4 linked regions of the Homo sapiens genome follow. The protein of the gene in region 4 purifies or fractionates together with the protein of the main gene of each other region. This does not show direct contact. Each region holds a gene or a part of one and is shown on either strand. Other genes may lie near its edges. The genes, in order: HERC1, ZFTRAF1, GAK and RABGEF1.

Evidence for each region.
Region 1: the proteins of RABGEF1 (region 4) and HERC1 purify together in Homo sapiens (affinity purification with mass spectrometry; 2 studies listed by BioGRID and IntAct, with this or other methods). This does not show direct contact.
Region 2: the proteins of RABGEF1 (region 4) and ZFTRAF1 purify together in Homo sapiens (co-immunoprecipitation; 3 studies listed by BioGRID and IntAct, with this or other methods). This does not show direct contact.
Region 3: the proteins of RABGEF1 (region 4) and GAK purify together in Homo sapiens (affinity purification with mass spectrometry; 2 studies listed by BioGRID and IntAct, with this or other methods). This does not show direct contact.

What each region holds. Positions count from the first base shown.
Region 1 is NC_000015.10:63,823,944-63,830,971, reverse strand, and holds part of HERC1 (probable E3 ubiquitin-protein ligase HERC1), read left to right. Parts: intron 1-7,028. UniProt on the Homo sapiens protein: Involved in membrane trafficking via some guanine nucleotide exchange factor (GEF) activity and its ability to bind clathrin. Acts as a GEF for Arf and Rab, by exchanging bound GDP for free GTP.
Region 2 is NC_000008.11:144,459,870-144,467,033, reverse strand, and holds the start of ZFTRAF1 (zinc finger TRAF-type-containing protein 1), read left to right. Parts: upstream 1-4,162; 5' UTR 4,163-4,379; coding exon 4,380-4,751; intron 4,752-7,164. Other genes in the region: kinesin-like protein KIFC2, read right to left, coding at 1-75, 196-274, 516-614; TMEM276 (transmembrane protein 276 precursor), read left to right, coding at 2,133-2,225, 2,422-2,907; TMEM276-ZFTRAF1 (uncharacterized protein LOC157542 isoform 1 precursor), read left to right, coding at 2,133-2,225, 2,422-2,574.
Region 3 is NC_000004.12:887,295-894,322, reverse strand, and holds part of GAK (cyclin-G-associated kinase), read left to right. Parts: intron 1-313; coding exon 314-449; intron 450-833; coding exon 834-946; intron 947-3,700; coding exon 3,701-3,791; intron 3,792-5,352; coding exon 5,353-5,476; intron 5,477-7,028. UniProt on the Homo sapiens protein: Associates with cyclin G and CDK5. Seems to act as an auxilin homolog that is involved in the uncoating of clathrin-coated vesicles by Hsc70 in non-neuronal cells. Expression oscillates slightly during the cell cycle, peaking at G1.
Region 4 is NC_000007.14:66,806,727-66,811,986, forward strand, and holds the end of RABGEF1 (rab5 GDP/GTP exchange factor), read left to right. Parts: intron 1-1,111; coding exon of another isoform or gene 1,112-1,150; exon of another isoform or gene 1,151-2,159; coding exon 2,160-2,558; 3' UTR 2,559-4,738; downstream 4,739-5,260. UniProt on the Homo sapiens protein: Rab effector protein acting as linker between gamma-adaptin, RAB4A or RAB5A. Involved in endocytic membrane fusion and membrane trafficking of recycling endosomes. Stimulates nucleotide exchange on RAB5A. Can act as a ubiquitin ligase.

The sequences.
Region 1 (7,028 bases), on a different chromosome or scaffold from region 4:
AAGCCAGGAAGGTCACATCTGCTAGCATTTTCTTTAACTACAAAAAGTGAAAAAGAGCATAAAGTAGTTGTTTACTTACTAGATGCCAGATCCGATTTTCATGATTTTAGTTTGTTCTGATGTTGCCTACCGGGCTCTCTAAATTAATGGGACTGTTAAATTTCAGATGAGATCCTTGAGCAAGAAGATATGACAGTTGTATCAGATGATTGGTTGATGGATTTTATTTATTTTTAATGATTTATTTAGAAATAATGTTAGACTTACAGAAAAGTTACAGAGAGAGTACAGAGTTCTTACATACTCTTCACCAAGCTCCCCCTAATGTTAACAACTTACATAACCATAATACAGTGATCAAAACCAGAAGTTAGCATTGGTGTAACTCTATTGACTATAGATTTTACTTAATTTCACTGGTTTTTCCCCATTAATGCCTTTTTTTTTGTTCTAGGGTCTAATCTAGGTTCCCACGTTGCATTTAGTTGTTGTGTCTTCTTCATTTCCTCCAATCTCTGACAGTTCCTCAGTTTTTGTTTTTCACGACCTTGACATTTTTGATGAGTACTGTTATTTTTTAGAACTTCTTTCATTTTGGGTTTGTCTGATGTTTTTTCTCATGATTTGATTGAGGTTAAGCATGTTTTGCAAGAAAACTACAGAAGCGATGTTGTGTCCTTCTCAATGCATCATATTGGGGGTACATGGTGTTGACATGTCTTTTTGCTAGTGGTATTTTAACTTTGAACCCTTAGCGGTATTCTTCACAGTAAAGTTACTATTCTTCCCTTTATTGTTCATACATATCTTGGGGGAGACACTTTGAGACTGTGGATGTACAGTTTCTCCTCAAACTTTCTCCCATTGATTTTTAACATCCATTGGTAGATCTTGTCTGCAACAGTTATTACTGTGGTGTTTGGCTAATCATGATTTTGTATTTCCCTCATTCCTTCTGCATTTATTAATTGGAATTCTTTAAGGGAGAGATGTCCCCTTTCCCTCACTTATTTATTCAATTATTTGTTTATATTAGTGTGTTCTTATGGGATCTCTATTTTCTATGGATTATAATCCAATACTATCATTATTTATTTTGTTGTTCAAATTGTTCCAGCTTTGGCCATTGGAAGCTCTTTCAGGTTGGCCTCTACCCTTTTTCAAGCACTTTCTTATATTCTGGGGCCACAGGCTGTTCCATGCTCATCTTATTTTTCCTTGCACCAGTCCTGGAGTCGACTACTTCTCCAAGGAGCTCTGGTTTCTTTTATTGGAGAATAGTATTTAAAATCAAAATCTGTATACTCGGTATGTTTATTGGAGTTTTATTGCTCCCAGGACTTCAGTTGGCAGAACTAGGAAATATATCAGTATATTATATATATATATATATATATATATATATATATACACACACACACACACACATACATATATGTGCACACATATTATTTATATATGTGTGTGTGTGTATATATATATATATATATATTTATATAAACATATATGTGCACACACACACACACATACTGACGTTTCTTTCTTTTTTGAGACAGGGCCTCACTCTGTCACCCAGGCTGCAGTGCCGTGGCGTGATCATAGCTTACTGCAGCCTTGAACTCCTGGGCTTAAGCCATCCTTCCACCTCAGCCTCCCAAGTAGCTGGGACTACAGATGTGCACCCACCATGCCCCGCTGATTTTTTTTTAATTTTTAGTAGAGACGAGGTCCTGCTGTTTTGCCCAGGTTGGCCTTGAGCTCCTGAGCTCAAGTTATTCTCCCACCTTGGCCTCTCAGAGTGTTGGGATTCCATGCGTGAGCCACAGTACCCTGCCTGTATTCTATATATATTTAAAACCATGGGTTCATATTGACACCTATTCTAATCCAGTACCACAAAGTTCATTCTAACCTTCTCCCGTTCCTTCTGTCTCTGTCAGAAACCTGGCTTTCATGATATAGAGTAAGTATACTCACTTATTTGTTGACTTCTAGAATACACATGAAGTGGTTACAGATTGCTAACCTGTACCCTAGTGAAAAATGTATTTACTAATTAGTGTATTTGTATGTAGTTATTTTTGCTTTAGCCTTATAGTATCTAGTCAAAATAGTTTTCCAAAGTTACTTAGGTTAGTTATTTTCTTTACCACTCCCTTTAGTTTAATCTTATTCATCCCTAATGCATTAAGTTCATTTGTTATTGTTACTGTTCCATTTTGGGTTCCCTCCAACCCTAGTTGATTTTAATTATTATTATTTTTTGGCATATGAAACATTATAGTTACTAAACACTGCTTCTACTAAACACTACTGTATAAAAAGGTGTACTGGGCTGGGTGCGGTGGCTCATGCCTGTAATCCCAGCACTTTGGGAGGCCGAGGAGGGCGGATCACCTGAGGTTGGGAGTTTGAGACCAGCCTGGCCAACATGGAGAAACCCCATCTCTACTAAAAATACAAAATTAGCTTGGTGTGGTGGCGCTTGCCTGTAATCCCAGCTACCCAAGAGTCTGAGGCAGGAGAATCACTTGAACCTGGGAGGCGGAGGTTGCGGTATGCCAAGATCACGCCATTGCACTGCAGCCTGGGCAACAAGAGCAAAACTTTGTCTTAAAAAAAAAAAAGGAAAAAAGTTGTACTGAAAAGTGTCACTCTCTCCTTGTTTTTACTATCTCATTTCCATCCCTCCATCTTTGTTTCTACCTCTTGCCCATGCCCTGTGGGTACATAGTCTCTTTAGTTTCTGGTTTGTCCCTTCCTTTATTTCTGTTACACAAATGAAAATATATGTGGGTGTTCTCTTATATTCCTTTTCTTCTGATACAGTTACTTATTGCCATACAATTCACATACCATACAACTCACCCTTTTAAAGTGTACAATTCAGTGGTTTCTAGTATATTCACAAGATGGTGCAACCATCACAACTATCTAATTCCGGAACACTTTCATCACCCCCAAAAGAAACTGTGTATCCATTAGCAGTCACTTCCCAGGTCCGCTTCCCAGTCTACTTTCTGTCTGTGTGTGTTTGCCTATTCTGGATGTTTTGTGTTAATGGATCATATAATATGTGGCGTTTTGTGCCTGGCTTCTTTCACTTAGCATAATTTTGTCAAGGTTCATCCATGTTGTAGCATGTATCAGTACTTCATTCCTTTTGATAACTGAATGTTATTCCGTTATGTGAATATACTACATTTTGTTCATGCGTCAGTTGAGGTACATTTGGTTTTCTACTTCTTAGCTGTTATGAATAATGCTGTTTTGTACATTCATGTACAATTTTTTGTGTGGACATATATTTTTAATTCTCATGGGTATATATACCTAGGAGTGGAATTGCTGGGTCATATGATTACTGTATGTTTAACTTTTTGAGCAACTGCCAGATTGTTTTCCTGTTCCCTTCTTTTTTATGTGGAGAGTATACTATACTCTTTTGCACTTTTTTTCACTCAATAGTATATCCTGGAAATGACTCCAAATCAGGTCATTCTTTTGAAGAGATATTCCTTTCATTTTCTTCGGTCTTTTTTTTTTTTAAGACACAGTCTCACTCTGTTGCTCAGGCTGGAGTGCAGTGGTACAATCATGGCTCAAACTGTGGCCTTAATCCCCTGGGCTTAAGCGATCCTCCTTCATCAGCCACCCAAGTAGCTGGGACTACAAGTGTGCACCGCTATACCTGGCTAATTTGTTGATTTTTTGAGATGGGGTTTTGTCATGTTGCCCAGGCTGGTCTCGAATTCCTGGGCTCAAGTGATCCTCTCACACTGGCCTTCCAAAGTGTTGGGATTATAGGCGTGAGCCACTGCACCCAGCCTATTCTTTTTTACAGCTGTGACTTGACTGTGTAGATGTTTCTTAACCTCTTCAACCATTCATCTATGTATGGGCATTTAGGTTGTTTCTTATGTAAATAGCCTTGCGCGTAGTATTTTGGTATCGTTAGAACCGTATCTTCAAGGTAGATTTCTGTAAGTGTGATTGCTGGTTCAAAAGTTAAGTGCACATGTAGTTTTGTTAGATATTCCCAAATTCCAGATTTTCCTCCACAAGTATACCAATTTGCATTCTCACCAGTAATGTGTGAAAGCACCAACAGAATACGTTGTCATACTTTATATATATATATATATATATATATATATTTTTTTTTTTTTTTTTTTTTTTTTTTTTTTACCAGAGATAAGTGATTAAAAGAATAGTAGTCATTCGGGTGACCCCTTGTGGATGAGTGCTTAATGCTTGCAGATGGTTGGTTCTTATAGCTTGAAAATGAAATACATTGTCCACTAATACTGCATTCATACATGTAGCTTATTATGTGCAGGTAAAGTCCATTAGTTCTGGCCTAGTCAGGATTGTTCATTTTAACATTTTGCATTTAATGGAAGTGCTACATTGATTCATAGTACCTGTGCTCTAAAATACTTTTGGGGTTTAACAGAGGATAACTGAAATTCTAAGAATATTTCTTAGGCTAGAATATGTGATATGGTAGTTACTGGTTCACATTGTACATAGTTATTTTGAACGGTATATACAGTACGTATTGATACCCATGGTATGGTAGTTATTTGGACCAGTAATGGCAGTATCTTGGAACCTGTCATAGTTCCATAAGGAAGAAGGGCAGTCGTAATGAAAATTAAACCGCGAGTTTAAAGTTCTGGGTTAGGGCAATCCTATTAGATTTTAGCGGTGCCAAAAAACCAAGACAACATGAAGAAATCCCCATCTTTTAGGGTAACAAGTGCTGCCCAGCAACACTGGAAATTTAGGTTCATTCCCAGAAAGAGTGCTGCTCCAGGTGCTTGGAACACATTAATTGAAAATCAAAGATTCTGGCACTTGATGAGTTTATATTCCATTCGTTTTCTTTTTAAGAAATTATTATTTGGCCGGGCGTGGTGGCTCACACCTGTTAGTTCCAGCACTTTGGGAGGCTGAGGTGGGTGGATCACCTGAGGTCAGGAGTTTGAGACCAGCCTGGCCAACATGGTGAAACCCCGTCTCTACTAAAAAAACAAAAATTAACTGAGCATGGTGGCGGGTGCCTGTAATCCCAGCTACTCGGGAGGCTGAGGCAGGAGAATCACTTGAACCCAGGAGGTGGAGGTTGCAGTGAGCTGAGACCCACCGCTATACTCAGCCTGGGGGACAAGAACGAGACTCCATCTCAAAAAAAAAAAAATTATTATTTTTCTTTTTTTTCGTGGTTTTCTAATGAACTGATGTTCCCAGGAAAATAGATGCTGAGTGCTGATTGTGAATGGAACCAGTAAAGGCCTGGGATAGTCTTAAAGTACAATCACCTTTGCTGCTATAAAAACTTCAAATAATACTTCATTTTACTGATTACAAAATAAGCCCACAAAAGTCACAGGATGGTAACATATTGTTCACCAGTCTCTTCTCTCTCATTTTATTTGTTTATTTCAGGCTTACTTACTTATTTATTGTATAAATTTAATGTGTACACATGATGTTTTGATATACATAGTGAAATGATTGCTGTATGTAAGCAATTTAAGATACCCATCATCTCACATAGTTACTTTTTTTGTATGTGCTAGGAACATTTAAAATCTACTTTTAGAAAATTTCTGGTATATAATATGCTAATATTAATTATATTGCTCTTGCTAACTTTATTTATTTTTTGAGACAGAGTCTTGCTCTGTCACCTAGGCTGGGGTGCAATGGCATGATCTGCGTTCACTGTAACCTCCACCTTGGGTTCAGGTGATTCTCATGCCTTAGCCATTGGAGTAGCTGGGTGTGTGCTGCCACACCTGGCTAATTTTTTGTATTTTTGAGGAGATGGGGTTTTGCCAAGTTGGCCAGACTGCTCTCGAACTCCCGGCCTCAAGTGATCTCCCTGCCTCGGCCTCCCACAGTGCTGGGATTGATTACAGGCATTAGCCACCGTGCCCAGCCCTCATGCTATATTTTAGATCTCTAGATTTATTCATCCTACATAACTGCAACTTTGTTCCCTTGACCTGCATCTCCCCTACTCTCCTAGCCACTGTTCTAGTCTCTGTTTCTATGTATTTGACTTTTTTTTTTTTAAGATTCCACATATAGAAGAGATCATTTAGTGTTTTTTTTTTTTCCTACGTCTGACTTGTGTCACTTAAGACAGTGTCCTCCAGTTTCATTTGTTTTGTTGTAAATGGCAGGATCTCCTTTTTGAAAGCTGAATACTATTCCAGAGTGTGTTTGTATCACAATTTCTTTATAGAGCCATCCACTGACAGACGTGTAGGTTGGTTCCATATCTGAGTTAGTGTGAATAATGCTGCAGTGAACATGGGAGTGCAGCTCTCTCTCAGAGGTGCTGCTTTTATTTCTTTTGGGTTAAAACCGAGAAGAGAGATTGCTGGATCATATGGTGGTTTTCTTTTTAATTTTTTTTTTTTTTTTGAGATGGAGTCTCACTCTGTTGCCCAGGCTGGAGTACAGTGGCATGATCTCAGCTCACTGCAACCTCTGCCTCCCGGGTTCAAGTGATTCTCCTGCCTTGGCCTCCTAAGTAGCTGGGACTACAGGTGCCTGCCACCACACCCGGCTAATTTTTTTGTATTTTTAGTAGAGATGGGGTTTCACTGTGTTAGCCAGGATGGTCTCCATCTCCTGACCTTGTGATCTGCCCACCTCGGCCTCCCAAAGTGCTGGGATTATAGGCGTGAGCAACTGCGCCCAGCCCTTTTTAATTTTTTGAGAAACCTACATACTGTTTTCCATAATGGCGGTTCCAATTTACATTTCCACCAACAGTGTTCAAATATTCCCTTTTCCCCACTCCCTCATCAACACTTATCTCTTGTCTCTTTGATAATTGCCATCCTCACAGGTGTCAGGTGATACCTCATTGTGGTTTTGATTTTTTGATTTGTGTTTCCCTGATGATTAGTGATGTTGAGGCATTTTTATGTCCTATTTGGAGAAATATCTATTCAAGTCATTTGCCCGTCTTAAAATCAGGTTATTCATTTTTGTTTTTTGCTATTGCG
Region 2 (7,164 bases), on a different chromosome or scaffold from region 4:
GGGCCTCTTCCAGGGACACCGCGGCCGCGCGGCCCTCGGCTGCGCCTTCCGACCCATCCTCAGGCTCGGAGCTGGCTGCCGGTCAGGGAGGAGGGCGGGAGACATTTCGGGTCACGTGCTTGAGCCAGGCCTCCGCCCCTCCCTGGGAGGTCCCGGCACCGCCCTCGCACCGCGGGACTCCCAGCCCGCACCTACCGGCCAGGCCGGTCAGCTCGGTCCACAGCTCTGGCGCGGGCAGGTCTGGGCGCCGGCGACCCCGGGGCTTGCGGGCTCTCTAGGGAGGGGGCAGGGGCGCCCCTGAGGAGGGGGGCAGGCAGCCTGCTGGCCCCTTCCCTCCGCGAACCGGGCCGGAGGATTGGGGCCGAAGTCTACGCTTCCAGCATCGGGGCCGAGCCGAGGGTCCTCGGCACGGCCCCGTCGCCCCGCGCCCCGTGCCCGCCCCCGCCCCGGGAACCTCGGCGTGGGGGTGGGGCAGGCGGCGGGAGACGACGGGCTGCACGGCCAGCCCCGCTCACCTGGGCGGGGTCCCCGGGCTCCGCGGCCGCCGCGGCGCCACCATCCCTGCGGAAGAGGCTGTAGAAGATGTAGATGAGCAACGAGTAAAAGGCGTACATGGGAGCGCGGGGCGGCAGAGGGCCCCGCTTCGCGCCGCCCCGCGTCCCCGCGCCCAGACTCGGCGCCCGCCCGCCGCAGTGCCGGTGCGCATGCTCGCGACGGCCGCCCCCACGGCCCGGCTCCCACGGCTGGAAGGCGAGCGCGGGGACGGGGGTACTAGAAACAGGTGCCCGCGGCCGCACCTGGAGACCCGCCGTTTCTCACGGCGCCGCCCGGCGCGCCCCAACCCCTACACCGCGGACACCGGGCTGAGAGCGCCCACGGCTCCCGCGACCCTCCTCTCGGAATCCCTCCCACCCTCCGCGTAGTCCCCCACCGCTCCGGTTTCGCGGAGCCTTCAACACGCCGGGGTTCTCCTTCCTCTCCCTACAGCCCCGCCCATCTCAGCCCCGCCCATCTCAGCCCCGCCCAGACCCCCCCTCCTCGCAGCCCCGCCCAAACCCCGTTCCTTGCAGCCTCGCCCAGGCTCCTCCCCTCTCGGTCCCTCTCAGTCTCGCCCAGACCCCTCTCCTCGCAGCCCCGCCCAGGCCCCGCCCCTCGCAGCCACGCCCAGACCCCCCCATCGCATCCTCGCCCAGGCCCCGCCCCACCCAGGCCCCCTCCCTCTCAGACCCGCCGCTCTCAGCCCCGCCTAAACCTTATCTCCCTCAGCCCCGCCCAGACCCCCCGCCCCTCGCAGCCCCGCCCAGACCCCGCCCCTCGCAGCCCCGCCCCGGCCCTTCTCCCCTCATCACGCTCCTTCCAAACCACTATGCCCACGCACGCACCCACCCAAACAGAGCGTTTTCTGGTCCCCGAGCTCCTCCCGACCCCACCCGCTCCTACGGCCTCCAACCGGCCCCCCCCAGGTCTCGACCCTCTCCCCCAGGCCTCGACCCTCCCCCCCCAGCCGCTCTAGCCCCGCCCGGCCGCTCTAGCCTCCGCTCCTCTCGCTGGTGGAGGTTCCCGACCGCGCTCGCTCCCGCAACTGGGGGCACGGCAGAGGAGGCAGGGCCGACGGCGGTGGGCGGTGCGTTGCGCAGGCTCGGGCCTCCCGCTCGCCGCTGCGTTGGGACCGCGCAGCCCGGTAACTGCGCACGGCTGGCCTCCCGGAGTCCTGCGCCGTCGCTCCTCCTGGACCCGGGTTCCCAGGACAACGCCTCCCGGAACGCAGGGAGCAGGCCGAGGCCGCCGCGTGGGCCTGCAGCGCCTCGCCGCTCTCTCTTCCCCAGGCCCGCACTCCCACTTGGGCTCCAGGGCCCCAGGGCTGACGTTCCCCCCAGCTTAGACCCTGAGTCGTTTTCCCCCGTTTCCCGGCTGAATTAGGTTCTTCTTCTCCACAGGTGTGTGCAGTGGCCTCAGGGATCCGGAAAGTCTAGGACTGAACTTCTCCTAACATCCAGTAATGGGGACCTGGAACCTGGGCTTACTAGAGTGCCGCGCGTAGGGCTCCAGGTCGCTGGCTTCTGCGCTTCCTTCCTCTCCAAAGTTGAGTATCTCCTATCTGTGTCCTCGTACATACTGCCGCCTGAGGTGCCATGGCCCCCAAGCCGGGGGCCGAGTGGAGCACAGCCCTGTCCCATCTGGTGCTGGGAGTGGTGTCTCTGCACGCAGCCGTGAGCACAGCCGAGGTGAGTACACTGGGGCTGAGCAGGGGCGCATCCCCATACCTCCCAAACCCCAAGGACCTAGTTTCCTGAATTAGAGAGAGGTTGGTGGGAAGTGCGTCTAAGACCAGGTCTCCATGGAAGCCCCAAACCCTTTCCTGTTTAAAAGGGTGACCCCGGCCTCTTTTTCCCACGTGTTCTCCCTTCCCTGTGTTGACAGGCAAGTCGAGGGGCTGCTGCTGGCTTCCTGCTCCAGGTCTTGGCTGCCACCACCACGCTGGCCCCAGGGCTGAGCACACACGAAGACTGCCTTGCTGGAGCCTGGGTGGCCACCGTCATCGGCCTTCCCCTTCTGGCCTTCGATTTCCACTGGGTGAATGGGGACCGCTCCTCTGCCAACCTGCTCCTGGGAGGAGGCATGGTGCTGGCAGTGGCTGGCGGCCACCTCGGCCCTGAGGGCCGCTCTGTGGCTGGTCAGGCAATGCTGTTGGTGGTCGCAGTGACCATCCTCATTGTAGCTGTCTTCACGGCCAACACTTATGGGATGTGGGGGGGGGCGATGCTGGGTGTGGCAGGCCTCCTGAGCCGGCTGGAGGAGGACAGGCTGCTGCTGCTACCGAAGGAGGATGTCTGTCGCTGGGCCTTGGCTGTAGGCAGCTGGGCTTACTGCCGGGCCCTGCATACACAGCGCCTCCAGTGGGAGTGACAGTTGGATACAGCCAGGCAGGGTTTCTGCCCTGCCGAACACTTTCCCTCCCACCTGCCTGCTCCTGGCGCCTTCTCCCTAGGGGTAGACTCTTCTGCCTACTGAAGTGGGTTTGCTGCACATTGACTGGTCAGGGGCAGAGTCTGGGTGCTGTCCTTTGGCCACGTGTGGGGACTTGTCTAGACCAGAATGAAAGGGACAGGGTCCCAGACACGTTTGGGGGTCCTGATTCTGGGCTGGACACGGTTGTGGATCCAGAGAAGAGGCCTAGTCTCCAATAAATCTTAGGAATTTTGCAGGAATATGAAAACTGCCCATTTTTGAGAGGGATTGAGGGATCTTTCAGTGAGCTTCCTAAGGCCCCTCAGGACAGTAGTCAGTTACCCTGACAGGGTATGTGCTGGAACTAGGATGGGGTCTCATGCAGCCCGGCCTCCTTTTGACTATTGTCAGGAAGACCCCTGGGCTGAGAAGACATAGCCCTGGGCCCTTACTCTCCAGGGACATGGTGGAGTTCCAGATATCCTGGCCTGGCCTGGCAGGTGGCCCTCTGGGGCAGTGACCTTCAAGAACTGAAGAGTAGGGTGGAGGCAGGGGAGGGCTGTACCACAGGCGTTTCGAGAAACGCACATCCTTCCCAGAGCTGATTCGCCCTCCTGTGTACCTCCGGCCTGTGGAAGCCAGCCCTATTCCCTAATACCTTCGTTTTCCTCAGTGGACCCCTTCAGTCTCCAACCCCAGGGTTAGAGGGGGTTCGGACGAGCAGAGGATTAGATTCCGGTGGGTTAGGGGTCTGGAGTCCCCTCTCCTGGAAGTCTCTCCGCTTGCTCCTGTGGAGACCTAAGGGGTCCCGCACCCGACAGAGAGGGGTGGCCGGCGGGATTTTTCACTTGTGTCCTTCCCCTGCGGGGAAGGGGGCGAGAGCCCCTAACACAAGCCTGAGTCTTGGGGGACAGAGACACAGGCACACCCCGCCGTAGGGGTCGGCGGCCGCCACTGGCTCGTGGAGCGTGGGTGCCGCGCCGGCGCCACAGCTCGCGTGGGCCTCCCTGCCCCCAGGTGCGAGTCCCTCCGCGACTCTCGCAGGCCGCGCCCCCTCCCCGCCCACCTTCTGCAGGGGCGGGCCTTCGGGGGCCCTCGCTCTCCCATTGGCTCTAGTCCCTGCGCTTTCTTGCCCCAAGCGGCGCTCCCATTGGCCCCGCGTGGGGCTCACGTGACGGGGAAGACGAGGGGGTGGTGGCGGCGGGGCGGGGGGAAGCGCACAGCGAAAACAAAGATGGCGGCCGTGCCGGGGTCGGTGGCCGCGGCGGCTGTGGGGCTACGCGCGGGCCGGGCCCACTGAGGCGGCGGCGCAGGGAGCGGGGCTGCGGGTTCGCGGCGGCGGCGGCAGGAGAGCGGCGGGAGCGCGCGGCGCCCCTAACTTCTAGTCGGGGGAGCGCGCCGGCATCCGCCCGCCGGGCCGGCCGGCCGCTATGTCCGGCGCCGAGGAGGCCGGCGGGGGCGGCCCGGCCGCGGGGCCCGCGGGCTCCGTGCCGGCCGGGGTCGGGGTCGGGGTCGGAGCCGGGCCCGGGGCGGCCGCCGGGCAGGCGGCGGCGGCGGCTCTGGGCGAGGCGGCGGGGCCTGGGCTCCCGGACGAGGCGGGCTTGGCGGGCGCCCGGCAGCTACAGCTGCAGGAGGCGGCCGGCGACCCCGACGCGCCGCCCAAGAAGCGGCTGCGGGCAGCCGAGGCGGCCGAGGCGGCGGCGGCGGCGGCGGCGGCCGGCAGCGGGAAACTGGAGGAGCGGCTCTACTCGGTGCTGTGCTGCACCGTGTGCCTGGACCTGCCCAAGGCCTCCGTGTACCAGGTAGGGCCGCCGGCCGACCCCGACCCGGCCCAGCCCGGGGCTGCAGCCCCCGCCGCGGGGCCCCAGGATCCGCGTCTCCTCGGAGGCCAGGCCTGCGGGGCCCGGCGGCCGGGAACCCTCTCTGGCCCTTACAGCCACTTCCTCGCCCAGCGGGGCTCCAGCGGCTGCTCCGAAGCTCCTCGTTGTCTTTCTCTCAGGGCTTTATTTTCCGCTCGGGACCCCCCTTTTCTGTTTTCTGATCCACGGTACTTCCCGATCTGAATCGCTTGTCTTCCGCTTACCTCTCCCTTCTTTTTTCTAGACTTCCCCACGGTCCCCTGAACACTCTCCCAACCCACAGCCTCAAACTGATCCTTAGCCCGCAACTGCTCCCCGCAACCCACCCGGTCCCAAGCTCCCTGGGCTCAGAGTCCTGTGCTCGAGAGCTCCTTCCCCATTCTTCCGGCAGCCACACCCCCGAGTTTGTCCCTCCACTCCTGAACATCCTATGGACGCCTCCTTTTCTACCCTCCTGGGTGGAAGAATCCTTTCTCTTGGTCCATTTCCAGTTCATCCTGAAGAACAGTAAGGAGAGGGGATTGCTGTTTGTCGGGATGAACCATTTGCAACAAGCCCCACAGTTTGGGTACCTTCTCCAGTCCCAGCCAAACCCCACATCCAACTGGACTTGCCATGCCCCACGCTAGGCTCCTGCCCACCTCACCCAGGCCAGGCCAGGCTTCCTAGGCAGCCAGTGCTCCAGGAGCCGGCCCACCCCTCCTCCCCCATCTTCACATCCGCATGGCAGTGGGACTCAGCCCTTAAGCAGCCTAGGGCTGTTAGGGTACCTGGCCCAGGTGGGTTTGACATGCCCTTTCCCAGGTAGCAGCAGGGACAAACTGGTTGACACCCAGAGGCAGAGTACAGTGTCCCCACCTTCCCTGTGTCTTTCCCTCTCTTTCAACTCCCCAGTCCCTGTGAGAAATGAAGCAGGTTCTCTGTCAGCTTTCTTTACACTTACAGGAGCTGGAAGTAGCTAATGGGGCCTTGTTTCCCTGCTTGTGTTTGAATTGGGGGCCTGGATGAGGAGCTACTTTTGTAGCAGGTGGTGTAGGGCTAGTCTAGGTTGCCATTTCTCCAAACTCTGGATCTCCAAGTCCTTCTTGCTGTGGCATGACCTTGTCGGGAGGACCCCAGTGTGCCTGGGTGGGGAGAGGGCACTGGCTCTAACCCACCCTCCTGGGTGTCAGGCACCAGGGCCAGCTAGGGGAGCACTTTTCAGAGCCACTGGCTCCCAGAGTTAGCAGTTACTCCTTGGCTTTGGCAGTGCCTCAGCTTCCAAGATGTGCCCACTCTCCAGCTCCTTTTTCCTGGCTCACAACCTTCGATCCTCCCAGGCGGAAGAACTCTCCTTTTTTTTGAGACGGAGTCTCACTCTGTCACCCAGGCTGGAGTGAAGTGCCACGATCTCTGCTCACTGCAACCTCCGCCTCCCGAGTTCAAGCAATTCTCCCTACCTCAGCCTCCCGAGTAGCTGGGATTACAGGCGCCTGCCACCATGCCCGGCTGTTTTTGTATTTTTTAGTAGAGACGGGGTTTCGCCATGTTGGCCAGGCTGGTCTCGAACTCCTGACGTTGGGTGATCCGCCTGCCTCGGCCTTCTGAAGTGCTGAGATTACAGGCATGAGCCACTGCGCTTGGCCAGAACTTTTTCTTGGATCTCGAGGGAGACTCCAACAAGCCAAGCCAATGGTGTGAGGCCACGGGGGAACAGGGAAGTCTCCTTGTCTCCCCATTGGTGGGTGGGCTGGAGCTGTAGCTGGACCTGGTGGTGATGGGCCACATGGTACTGGTCCCTGGTGCACTGCATCCCCCATCTAGACTGGCCCGGCACAGAGTGATGGCTCTGCTTCTGACCGGAGCTCCTGGTGACCAGGCCTCTGAGCCTAGCTGGTTCAAACCGGCCTGCACTGTGCAGAGTGGAGTTCTGCTCTGGGCGGCCAGAGGCAGGGAGCTGAACAGGTGTAATGGAGACCGAAGGCGCTGGGGCTGCCCTGGCTGGTGGCCCTCCCTGGCCTGGGGGCTCTGTTCAGTGACTTCCCTGGGAACAGAGCAGCTGAGCGAGGAGTGCTGTGGGCACAGGCCTCCCTGAATGCTGCGAAGAACACCTCCGGCGGGTGGCTCTCGGCTGTGAGTGGTGCCCCTGGAAGGTCAACACAGACCTGGAGACCTGGGCTCTGGCCTGCTCTGCTCCCTGGAGAATCTGGGCACAGATGGTGTGGGCCCCCACATGCTGCCTTCTGCGTGTCCCTGGTTGGGCCCATGCTGGCCATCACCCCAGCTTGGGTTCAGTCTACCATATTCTACTAGCTTTCCTTGGTGACCACGTTGATTGGCTGTCTCGAGCCAGCCAGTGTCAGGAATGCAGCAGGTT
Region 3 (7,028 bases), on a different chromosome or scaffold from region 4:
CCCTGCACTCCCCACAGGCCCAGGCGTCACCCCTGCGCTCCCCACGGCCCCAACGTCACCCCTGCGCTCCCCGCGGCCCGGGTGTCACCCCTGTTGTTCCCGCAGGCCCCGGTGTCACCCCTGCATTTCCCATGTTCCCGATATCACCCCTGTGTTCCCTGCAGTCCCCAGTGTCACCCCTGCGCTCCCCACGGCTCCGATGTCACCCCTGCATTCCCCGTGGGCCTGGGCATCACCCCTGCTCTCCCCGCAGGCCCAGGCGTCACCCCTGCGCTCCCCGTGGGCCTAGGCATCACCCCTGCTCTCCCCGCAGGCCCTGGGCTGCATCTTGTACCTGCTGTGCTTCCGGCAGCACCCTTTTGAGGATGGAGCGAAACTTCGAATAGTCAATGGGAAGTACTCGATCCCCCCGCACGACACGCAGTACACGGTCTTCCACAGCCTCATCCGTAAGTCCCGGTGGAATGCGTGCGTGGGGCAGGACCCTGGAGCACAGACCCCGCGTGGCTCTGGAGACCCCGCTCCCCTTGGGGCACTGCTCACCTGGCCCCACTCCCGCCCGTCACCATAGTTTTGACAACATCCCTGGGGGGGGGGTTTCCAGAGAGCTCCCCTGCCGCCCACCCCGCTGGTGAATTTGCGGTGCTCTGAGTGGTGATTTTTGATCATTTTGTTCGGTTTTTGTTCTTCCCTTTGCCGCTCCCTTCTTGCTTCTGACGTCACTGATGTGTGTAGAGGGAGTGGCCTCTGGTGGTCTGTGACCTCTGCCAGTGCAGGGGGTGCTGACCCGCCTGGGGAACCGTGGGGCCGAGCGCGCTGTGCTTCTGCTGCAGGCGCCATGCTGCAGGTGAACCCGGAGGAGCGGCTGTCCATCGCCGAGGTGGTGCACCAGCTGCAGGAGATCGCGGCCGCCCGCAACGTGAACCCCAAGTCTCCCATCACAGAGGTGAGGGAGGCACACGTGAGCCCCAAATCCCCCGCAGTGGTGAAGGAGGCACACATGAGCCCCAGATCCCCCGCAGAGGGGAGGGAGGCACATGTGAGCCCCAGATCCCCTGCAGAAGGGAGGGAGGCACACGTGAACCCTAAGTCTCCTATCACAGAGGGGAGGGAGGCACACGTGAGCCCCAGATCCCCCGCAGAGGGGAGGGAGGCACATGTGAACCCCAAGTCTCCTATCACAGAGGGGCGGGAGGCACACCTGAACCCCAAGTTTCCTATCACAGAGGGGAGGGAGGCACATGTGAGCCCCAAATCCCCCCACAGAGAGGAGGGTGGCATGTGGCTGTGCTGCTTCGTCCGGACCCTGCACCCTGGGGGTCTCTGCCCACTTCAGTGGGGAGCCACAAGCTCTTGAGGGCCCTGGGCTCCTGCAGGAGCAGGGTCACCACCGCAGCCCAGGGCCGAGACCCCGGGGGCATGCTGGGACCATTGCCAAGGTCTTCGCACTCTGCACGCGCTCCTCTGGCCTCCTTGAGGTTTGCAGGCGCCTTTCTAGATTCTTCCCCTGACAGGACAGCATGAATTGCTCCTGTGTCTTTGTTTCTGGGGTCTGGTGTCCAAGCCAGGTCAGCCAGCCCTCAGCTCTGGGCGTCCTGGGGTGTCCTGAGTTGCTCTGCGTCTGTGTTTCTGACCCTCAGCTCAGCTCTGGGCGTCCTGGTTGCAGTTGTGTCAGGGCTGGGCCTGGCCAGGGTCCACTCCCAGGCACCGGTGGCTGCTGGCAGCATCAGGGCCTGGGGGCTGGGAGACTGAGGCCCACAGGGCCGTGTGCTTTGTGGAAGTGTGAGGCCTGGGAGGGAGCAGCACGTGTTGGCTGGAAGATGCTTTCCTCAGAGTCTTTTCTGACCCAGCCGTGGACAGGGTGCAGCATCTCCATCACCAGATCCTCGAGGCAGAGCAGACACGCGGCCCGGCCCTCACCCACGGGGAGCAGGGAGGCCCCTGGGCATCCCAGCTCAGGGCCCAGTCAGGACACGCAGGGCCCCTCTGCAGATCTCGCAGGGGTCTGTGTCCAAGGACCCAGGACTCTTGGCTCCTGCATTTTGTCCCCTTTTCAGCCCTTGGGTCGTTTCCACTCCCTGGTAGCTGGAAGCCGGAACTTCCAGGGGCCACTGCAGTGGAGCTGACCCAGGCGGTGGGTGTGGAGCGTGGGGAGAAGGTCAGAGCTGCTGCCCGGAGTCCCTGTCTGAGGACAGGACCCTGTGGGACAAGGAAGGTTTGGGCTGTGTGGAGGGTTTGCAGTTCCTTGGGGGCCGCGTGGGTACAGAGACCTGGGAGCAGGGAAGTGCTGGGAAGCCCAGTGCAGACGGGGAGAGGCTGTGGTGCCCCTCTCTGGCGGCCATCATGGTGGGTGCACCAGCAGAGGGAGCCCTGGTGCTGGGTGCTGGAAGCATTTTGAGGTGTGGGGCGCTCTGAGGCGGGAGAGTTGATGTCACTGGTGGCCTCTCAGCAAGCTTCCCTGGGGCTGTCAGAGAGCGGCAGGAAGGGATCACTCCTGGGCCGTCCTGCTCTTTAGCAGCCTGGGCCTCGTGTCCCCCTCGCTTGGTGGCTCTTTACAGAAAATGCCTGCCCACTCCCCCGGAGGTCACAGAGGACAGTGGGCTCGCAGGGGGGTGTGGGCCTCTTGCTTTGTCGAGTGCGCTGGAGGGATTCTTGATGGGGCGGGAGGAGGTGCCGCTGGGCAGATGGGCAGAATCAGGCCCCTAGTGATGGGGCGGGGTCCTCAGTGCTTCTCATCTGAGTGCTTCTAGGCCGGGACCCCGTGGGGACAGACGTTAGACCCCTGCTTAAGCCAACCGACTCCCCCAGAAAACACAGTCCATGATGGAGCTGAGTTCACAATGAAATAAAATACTGCCCCCAGGAGGTAGTGAGCCTCACAGGGTGGCCCCCAGAACCCAGGAGCTGAAGTGATGGAACATCCTGGGACAGACAGGCCATGTGTCTGCTTAATATGGTTGGGCATGCGAGGTGGAGGCTGCAGTGAGCCCAGATCATGCCACTGCACTCCAGCCTGGGAGACAGAGTGAGACTCCGTTTCAAAAAAAAAAAAAAGAAAAAAAGCCTGGGTGCAGTGGCTCACGCCTGTAATCCTAGCACTTTGGGAAGCCGAGGCAGGCGAATTGCCTCAGCTCAGGAGTTCAAGACCAGCCTGGGCAACGTGGTGAAACCCCATCTCTACTAAAATACAAAACAAATTAGCCAGGCGTGGTGGCGCATGCCTGTAGTCCCAGCTACTCTGGGAGGCTGAGGCAGGAGAATTGCTTGAACTCATGAGGCGGAGGTTGCGGTGAGCTGAGATCGTGCCACAGCCCTCCAGCACTGCAGCCTGGGTCACAGAGCAAGACTCTGTCTCTACCAAAAAAAAAAAAAAAAATGTTGGTTGGACAGACTGGGAAGAGAGAGAAAAGGAAAAGGAACAGAAGCTGTAGCCCAAGAGTCTGAAAAGCTGGGCTGGAGTGCTGAGCACCTGCAACAGCCCCAAGCGAGGCAGGCCGCGGGGTGAGGGGATGAGGGCTGCGTGCGTTTGTTGAGTTCCAGCTGATGCTTCAGCCTGTGGGAAGTTCCTCCCTTGCACTGTGTCATAGATCAGGGGGCAGAAGGATGGGCTCTGAGGGCACCCATACCGTACCTCTGCCCGACGTGGGCAGGCGTGAGTTGTCAGTTTAGAGAACTGACCTCTGCATTTTCATTGTCACAGCTCCTGGAGCAGAATGGAGGCTACGGGAGCGCCACACTGTCCCGAGGGCCACCCCCTCCCGTGGGCCCCGCTGGCAGTGGCTACAGTGGAGGTGAGTGCCCTGTCCTGTGCCCGCCACCTGTCCCTCGCTCCTGCTGCACCCCGGGCACCCGCAGCACATTGGGATGGAGTCTGGGGTCCTTCTCTCCCGGGGCCTCCTCTCCCACCAGAGATGACTGTGAGGTCAGGGTCCCTGAGCACACCCTCAGGTTCGGCAGTTCCCTGGGGCTCACAGAGCTCAGCAAAGCTGGTGTCTTGGTGCAGTTCAGGAGGGGGTCAGGATTCGGACTAAAGCCAGCCAAGGGAAGAGGCTCCAGGGCAGGGCCCAGGAGACCGGGCCCGAGTGACCAGGCGGCCTCGCTCAGGGGTTATGTGGGAGGCAGCCTGCGCCGTGGCCAAGACCCCAGCATAGATCACATTGTCGTGTCTGGCACAGCCCAAGGCCCCAGGGAAACAGACACCCCTTTTGGGGCTGGAGGGGGCATCCCAGGTTCCTTCCCAGGAGCTGGGAATGAAGGGCCAGGCCTGCTGTGGGCAAGGTGAACCATTTACTACAGTAGCGACCCTGAGGCCAGGGGGCAGGAGCAGGCATTGGACAGTGGAGGGCGGTGGGGGAAGACAGTTCTGCCGCTAGTGTGAGGTGGCCCCTTCTGCCGCATGAGGAGTGGGCACCTGTGATGGGCCTGGGTGTCCCTGGAGGGCCCTCAGCTGGTGAGGAGTGGAGAGGGCCCTGGAGACAGACGCTGCATGCTCTTGGAACTCCGTGCCGGGAGTGTTCCAGAAGGTTCCGGGTGAGCCGTCGAGGACATGGCCCTGACAGGCAGCGGCTGGGTCTGCAGCTCTGCATGGCGCTGACCCCTCCCGACCTCGCCCCGCATCCCCACTGCGGTGTGGGAGGTTTCACCTGGGTCCTTCACCTCCGCTTCCCAGGGAGGAGCTCAGCTCCATGTCTGGGGCACCCCGGTCCGTGCAGTGTGGGTCCCACACATGCAGGTGTAGTGGCTGGCTGGGTCTCTGCTGGCTGGAGGAAGGGTGAGTCCTCGAGCTGCTGGGTTCTGCAGTGCCCCCATCTGCTCGGTGCTGCCTGGGCCTCGGTCTCCTGTCTGCATGAGGGACTTTGGCCAGGTGTTTTTTTTTTAACACCACTTGTGCCACCAAAGCCGCCTGTGAAGACCTCACTCGCAGGACCCACCAGGCCAGGGGCCACCACTCTGCCTTCACGTCCAGGGTCATGGTGGCCTGAAGCTGTGGCCGTGAGGCCGGACTATCCCCACAGACAGAGTCCCAGCCCCAGCTGTGCTGAGGCGGCCACATAGCCCTTCCGCACCCAGATTGACCATTTCCTGGGTCTCTGGAAAGGCTGAGGACAGGGTAGACCTGCCAGTGCTGAGGCCTGGCTTCCCGCTGGGTACGTGTGGGTCAGGGGCCTGGCCATACCACCCACTCCCTGCTCCTGCTGCCTGGGCCCAGCCAGCAACCTGCACCTGGGGAGGTGGGACCGAGCGCCTGGGGAGGTGGGACCGAGCGCCTGGGGCCTGGGCCCAGCCAGCAACCCGCACCTGGGGAGGTGGGACCGAGCACCTGGGGCCTGCTGAGACTGTGTCTCCCTGCAGGCCTGGCGCTGGCGGAGTACGACCAGCCGTATGGCGGCTTCCTGGACATTCTGCGGGGTGGGACAGAGCGGCTCTTCACCAACCTCAAGGACACCTCCTCCAAGGTCATCCAGTCCGTCGCTAAGTGAGTGTGAGGCTCCAGAGCCCTGGACCTGCCGCACGCTCGTTCCAGGCTGCAGCCCCGGCCCTTGCTTCCTGGCTGCGGTGGAACAGCTGGTCATCAGGCCCCACAGGGGCCCCTGAGGCAGTGGGACAGCATCACCCGCTTCTCCCAGGGAGTCGGAATGAGCCCAGCATCCCACAGAGCCAGGCAGATCCCTTTCCTTTCATCGCCTGGGGGGCAAGGCCCTGCTGAGGAGATGCCTGGGCCCTCCCCTCCCTTGCTGCAATGTCGCCCCTCACTCTGGGGCGTTCCTGGCTTGTTCCCGGGACTCTGTAAATTGGGTGAAACCTCGGTGGTGGCGCCTCACTGAGCCAGTCCTTGAGTTAAAGCCCTAGTTACTCAGACTTAGACCAGGTGAGTCCCAGCCTGTGGTGGGAGAAAGTCTCCCTCTGGGTGGGCTGTCCAAGGGCGCGTCTGTGCGGGGGTGGCCCCGACATCGGCCCACAGGCCCGGCAGCCTCTGCTCACGGAACACTGGGAATGTTCCAGAGTGCGGCCCCTCTGCGTTGCGGGGTCCATGCGCTGGCTCTTCTGAGGAGCTGAACGCCCAGGAGCACGCTGGCTGCTCATCTGGCCCTGCGGTCGCACCAGCTCAAGGGCGTCGGCTATGTCAGGAAACAGCCTAGGAGCTGGGCTGGACTGGTGCCCGTGATGCAGGAACTGCGGCCCCTGGTGGGCCCACGTTCCTTCCACAGCTGGCGACACCTTCGGGCTTTTTCTTATGTTTTTTGTTCTGTGCTGTGATCACTGTTTTGTGTCCCCAGCACCAGGTAGACGTGTGTGCACTTGTGCCTGCATGTACCGCAGCGTCTGCACATGTGAGCGTGGGTGCATGTGTCTTTGAGCATGTGTGCATGTGAGGGAATGGGTGTGTTAACATACATATGTGAACATGTGTGCATGTGTGTGTAAATGCTGGTGTGAGTATGTGCATAGGCGTGTGTGATTGCTGGTATGAGCATGTGTGCTGGTGCTTGTGAGTCCTTGTGCTTGTGAATCCTTGTGTGAGCTGAGTGCTCGTATTGTGTGCAGGCACGTGTATGAGCACATGTGCATGTTGGAGCATGTATGCGTGTGTGCATGTGTATGCATGTGTAGGAGTGCTTGTGAGTGCGCGTGAGCTGTGTGCATGTGTACACGTGTGCGAGTGCCTGTGAGTGCACGTGAACTGCATGCATGTGTACGCATGCGCGCGAGTGCCTGTATGAGCCGCGTGCATGTGTACGCATGAGTAGGAGTGCCTGTGAGTGTGCGTGAGCTGCGTGCATGTGTACACACGCATGCAAGTGTGTGTGAGCCACATGCATGTGTACGCATGCACACAAGTGCCTGTGTGCGTGAGCTGCGTGCATGTGTATGCATGTGTGCGAGTGCCTGTGAGTGCATGTGAGCCGCATGCATGTGTGCACATGCGCGCGAGTGCCTGTGCCTGAGCTGTGTGCACATGTATGCATGCGTAGGAGTGCCTGTGAGTGAGCATGAGCCGCGTGCATGTGTACACGTGTGAGTGCGCG
Region 4 (5,260 bases):
TCCGTCTCCTGGGTTCAAGTGATTCTCATGCCTTAGCCTCCCAAGTAGCTGGGATTACAGATGTGTGTCACCATGCCCGGCTAATGTTTGTATTTTTAGTAAAGACGGGGTTTCACCTTGTTGGCCAGGCTGGTCTCGAACTCCTGACCTCAAGCAATCCACCCACCTCAGTTTCCCACAGTGTTGGGATTACAGGCATGAGCCACCGCACCTGGCCTCATATTTCTTAATATAAATGAAACATACACTTGCCTACGAGGGAAGAGCGTTTTGGATTCAGTTCTTTATCCAAAGCGAGTCAGACAACCTGGAAGTCCCTGAGAAGTGTGAAGGTGGAGACATGGCAGGTATTGAGAGAAGTGGAGGAGGACCAGGACGTGTTTGAGCGTAGCCACGGTCACTGACAGTAGAGGTGGCTGGCTTGCACACACTTAGCAGCTTCTAGTGCCCTTGGCCTGCAGCCTTAAGTACATTTGTGCCTTCTCTCTTTGTCCTCTTCTTGCCTGACTCAGAGTCTGTCTCCTACACCCATTGCTCCAATGAAACTGCTCTGGCAAAAGTAAAAAGTTTCCAGCTGACGAACCCCACGGGCACTCACAGTCTTCATCTTCCTTCGCTTCTCATAGCACTCTCCAAGAGTCCTTTGTTCTGCAACTTCTGTTGTTCCTTGGCTTCCACAATTCCACTACTTCCTTGTCTCTTTGTAAAGTCTGTGTCTTCTACTTCCACCTTGAATTGTGTCATTCCATGGGACTCCATTGTCTCTGCATCTCTCTTCCTGCACCATCTTCTCTGTCACAGAGCTGTCACTCACTGTGCAGTGATGGCCTGCAGCTCTGGGTCACCTGTCTTGACCTTACACTTGTATTGCACCTCAAATATAATTTGTTCAGAGCTACTTCCCCTTCAGATGTTTGTTTCTTTTCCAGTATTCTCTATTCCTTTTAGTGGCAATGCCATGTCTCCATTCACCTAAGTGAGGAGTTAGAATCACCTCCTCTTTCCAGGTCACAGAGGGGCCACAGCAACTCCACACACACCATGAGCCAGATGGTGTTCCGTTCTACTCAGATGAATCAGATTTTTCTTTTTCTTTATTCCTTTTTTCTAGAGATGGTTTCTACCCCGACTGTTTCCCAGGCTGGTCTGAACTCCTGGTCTCAAGCAATCCTCCCACCTCGGCCTCCCAAAGTGCTAGGATTACAAGCACGAGCCAACACGCCTGGCTCAGATGTCTGTTGAATTGGGCATTTGCAGTGCCATGTCTGTACTAATAATTGCTACCGTGTATTCATTGCTCGCTGCAGGCCTCTCGGAAGCACGTGACATGTTATGTTGTTTAATTCTCACAATAAATCTAGGTGGTATTTCCCCCCATTTACAGGTACAGAAACCTCAGAGAGCTTAAGTAACTTTCCCACGGTCACTCACTGTTGTTGTTAAGTGAAAGAGGTGACAGTGAACTCAGGTTCAGTCACTTCAGAGTTGTTCCTTTTTTTTTTTTTTCCTGAGACAGTCTTGCTCTGTCACCCAGGCTGGAGTGCAGTGGCGTGATCTTGGCTCACTGCAACCTCCGCCTCCCAGGTTCAAGCAATTCTCCTGCCTCAGTCTCCCAGGTAGCGGGGATTACAGGCGCCCACAACTGCGCCCAGCTAATTTTTGTATTTTTAGTAGAGATGGGGTTTCACCATGTTGGCCAGGCTGGTCTCAAACTCCTGACCTCATGATCCACACGTCCCAGCCTCCCAAAGTGCTGGGATTACAGGCTTGAGGCACCGGGCCCGGTCTGGAGCTGTTCTTTTAACCACTTGATGTTAAAATATTCATTTGAGGATCAGAGGTCTGTGTGCCACACCTACTTGGGGACTATATCCTGGGTGGGGATAGCAGGTCTGGGAAGACTCAGACAGAATGGCTTCATGGTGCACCTGGGGAGGCTGCACCCAGACATCGGCCCTGGAGCTCCTGGGAGTGTATAGGAAGCACGACCGGGGATAGGAGTAGGTAATTTTTGAGGCTGAAATACACAGAAGTTCATGAGTTTGTTTTGTTTACTTTAGCTTCTGTTTTAAATGGTCTGTGATCAAAAGATTTTTACAAATCGACTCGAGTATGCATAGCTTTCCTAATATGACTGTATTAACGTCCTCTTCTTGTAGTGCTGTGCTGTGGCTTTCATTGAGAAGCTAGACGCCCAGTCTTTGAATCTAAGTCAGGAGGATTTTGATCGCTACATGTCTGGCCAGACCTCTCCCAGGAAGCAAGAAGCTGAGAGTTGGTCTCCTGATGCTTGCTTAGGCGTCAAGCAAATGTATAAGAACTTGGATCTCTTGTCTCAGTTGAATGAACGACAAGAAAGGATCATGAATGAAGCCAAGAAACTGGAAAAAGACCTCATAGATTGGACAGATGGAATTGCAAGAGAAGTTCAAGACATCGTTGAGAAATACCCACTGGAAATTAAGCCTCCGAATCAACCGTTAGCAGCTATTGACTCTGAAAACGTTGAAAATGATAAACTTCCTCCACCACTGCAACCTCAAGTTTATGCAGGATGATCACAATTTAGTGGAGAGTATTTATTTGAGCCTAAATTGTAGGTAGCCCTTACTACACTCAACTGATTGGGATCTAGAATGTAACTAAATTGCTTATAAATGTCAGCATTTTTTAAAGGTACAGTATATGGGGATTGTTTCGTTTTTCCTAGCAGGGGAACCTTAGTTAATAATAAAATACTACTTATTTGAGTTACTGATACAGATTCATTTAAGGCTTGTGTGCAAATTTTGTCTCAATCTTTTTTCCCTCCATGATTTTCCTATGTGCTTCCTCTGGCATTCACTGTGGTTTTGGTAAATAATTGCCTTTTAAAGGATTAAACAAATGAATGCTACAAAGTGTATGTTCAAGAAAATTAAATGGTACCACTCTTCCACAGTTTGGAATAATTTTATAATTGTAAAGATAGAAATTATATTGATAAGTAAATATGTAAAATTGTAAATATGTAAAAAAAAGAATGGTGTCTGCTGTGCATGGCATTTTATATGTTAATTTTTTAGTTTAAAATGAAGTATATTGAATGTTTGCCTTTAGCACCATTTTATTTGGTTTGTCCCACTAAAATGACTCGAGAAGTGTTTAGACAAACTCCCCTTAAGATGTGCACTCCATCTTTAAGAACGTGTTAGCCTTAACTTTGAGGTTCTATATAGTCAGAGACTATGACACCACTAAGGTTCAGAATAAAGTTTAGGCCACATAAAATTGCTGTTTAATGTAGTCGATGGAAGACTTTAAACTATGCTTCTAGCTTATTTTTCCCTCATTCATTCAGCAAATCTCTATTGAGTTCTTCAGTGAGAAGGAGCAGGCACTGGGCCTGGAATGGAAGGCGGGAATGAATGGGCCTCTGATGGTGAGAGGTGACGGGGTCCCTCAGCTGTGAGATGCAAGGGGCGCCTTGCAGCCTCCATAATATACATTTGACTTTGCAAACGTCTAGACATGTTTTCTGAACCTTTTTCAGGACATTTCAACCTCGGGACTATTCATATTAGTGGCCTGAGAGGTGTTTGTTGTGGGGCCACCCTGTGCATGGTAGAATGTTCAGCAGCATTCCTGCCATCCATATCCATTAGGTGCCAGTAGCACCCCCGCTAGAGCTGTGAAAAATTCTCTCCAGACATAGTCAGATGTCTCCTGGGGCCATATCACCCCTCCGTTAAGAACCACTGATGTCTTTTACAAACCAGGAGTTATCCTCCTGGTGGTTAATATGGTGTAACCAAAGAATCTTGCACTCAATGCACAGTGTGATGTTAACTAAAACGAGTTAAATATTTAGGAGGCTTGACAGCTACCTGCATTGTAGAACCTTTTCTTATCTCAGTGGAACCTTCTATAACCTAAATATACCATTGATGATTCTTCTTCCATTCAGTGACATCCACAGATTATGCAGCTATACTTGTGAAATCGTGCATGAGGCCCCAGGGCACCGTTCTAGAACAACGTCACTTCACACAGGCAGCTGAGAAAGGTTCTCTTGCTTTTCCAGTATCTTCCTAAGGATGGAGCCCAAAATTGCAGAGCAGTAACTTTGGAATAAAACCAGGGTGGGTATAAAACTTCTTATTCTTAAATTTACATATAAGATCTATTAAGCTTGACACATCTGTGTCATCACGCACTGAAGACAGGAAGCAGTTCACTGAGTCAGCTGGTTCCCAAGCTCGCACAGAAGGTGATAAGTTACTATCAAATGCCAGTGAGAATCTTCTTATAGAATAACCTGGGCCCAAGTGATTTTAGTACAAAACTTGCCCTTCTTTGGTTTAATTTTCTATGTGCTTTTAGGTGTGAATCCAGATATGCGGTCTTAATTCCTTTGGAAATACACAGTTCGTTTAGTTACTGTACACTCTGTTTGTTCAATAAACTGCATATCAACTTCCCACAAAAGCTGACTTTTTTGGGTCTCTTACATATAAAGTAGGTTATTGAGTTGATTTTTTTGGAGGTATCTCATATTGGTCGAATTCTTCTGGTATGGACTCTTGCCTTATATAGAGGCTTCTATTTCTCTTAAGTCAGCATCAATACAACGGCCGGAGTTTCTGTTTTTGCAATAAGAAGATGTTGGTATTTTATGTAGGGTAAATGTGACTGGAATACACCTTTGGAACGGAATTCTTTATCAATAAAGTTTCACAATCCGTCCCTCTTCCAAAAATTGATTTGGTTCTTTCTTAGGAAAATATACATTATTATTAATATTCTCATGCTACAGAGGTTTTCTGGTTAAGCTATACCTAAAAATGAAACATTAGAGACATTTGTCAGTTAAAATTAAGAAGACAAGAATATTTGCTGTCACCACAATCAATCAACCTTGTTCTTGCAGTTCTACCAAGGTACTCAGTCTTCAAACAGACATAAAAGTAGAGAAAAAAGGAGTTAATGTAATCAATATAGAGCTATTATTGTCTGTTGGTGAGGACATGAACTCTGAAGCTGGAAGGCTTGGATTTGGTTTTGAATTTTATTCTGCTACTTATTAGCTCATTGGCCCTGAACAAATCTCTTGTTTCAGATCCCTCAGCTGTGAAATGGGGTTAATAATATTACTGCTTCATGGGGTTGTTGTCTGAACTTAGAACAAATGATAGCTATTATTTGTAGATGGTTATTTTATGTAGAAAACCCAAGAGAAGGCTGGGTGTTGTGGCTCACGCCTGTAATCGCTTTTGGAGGC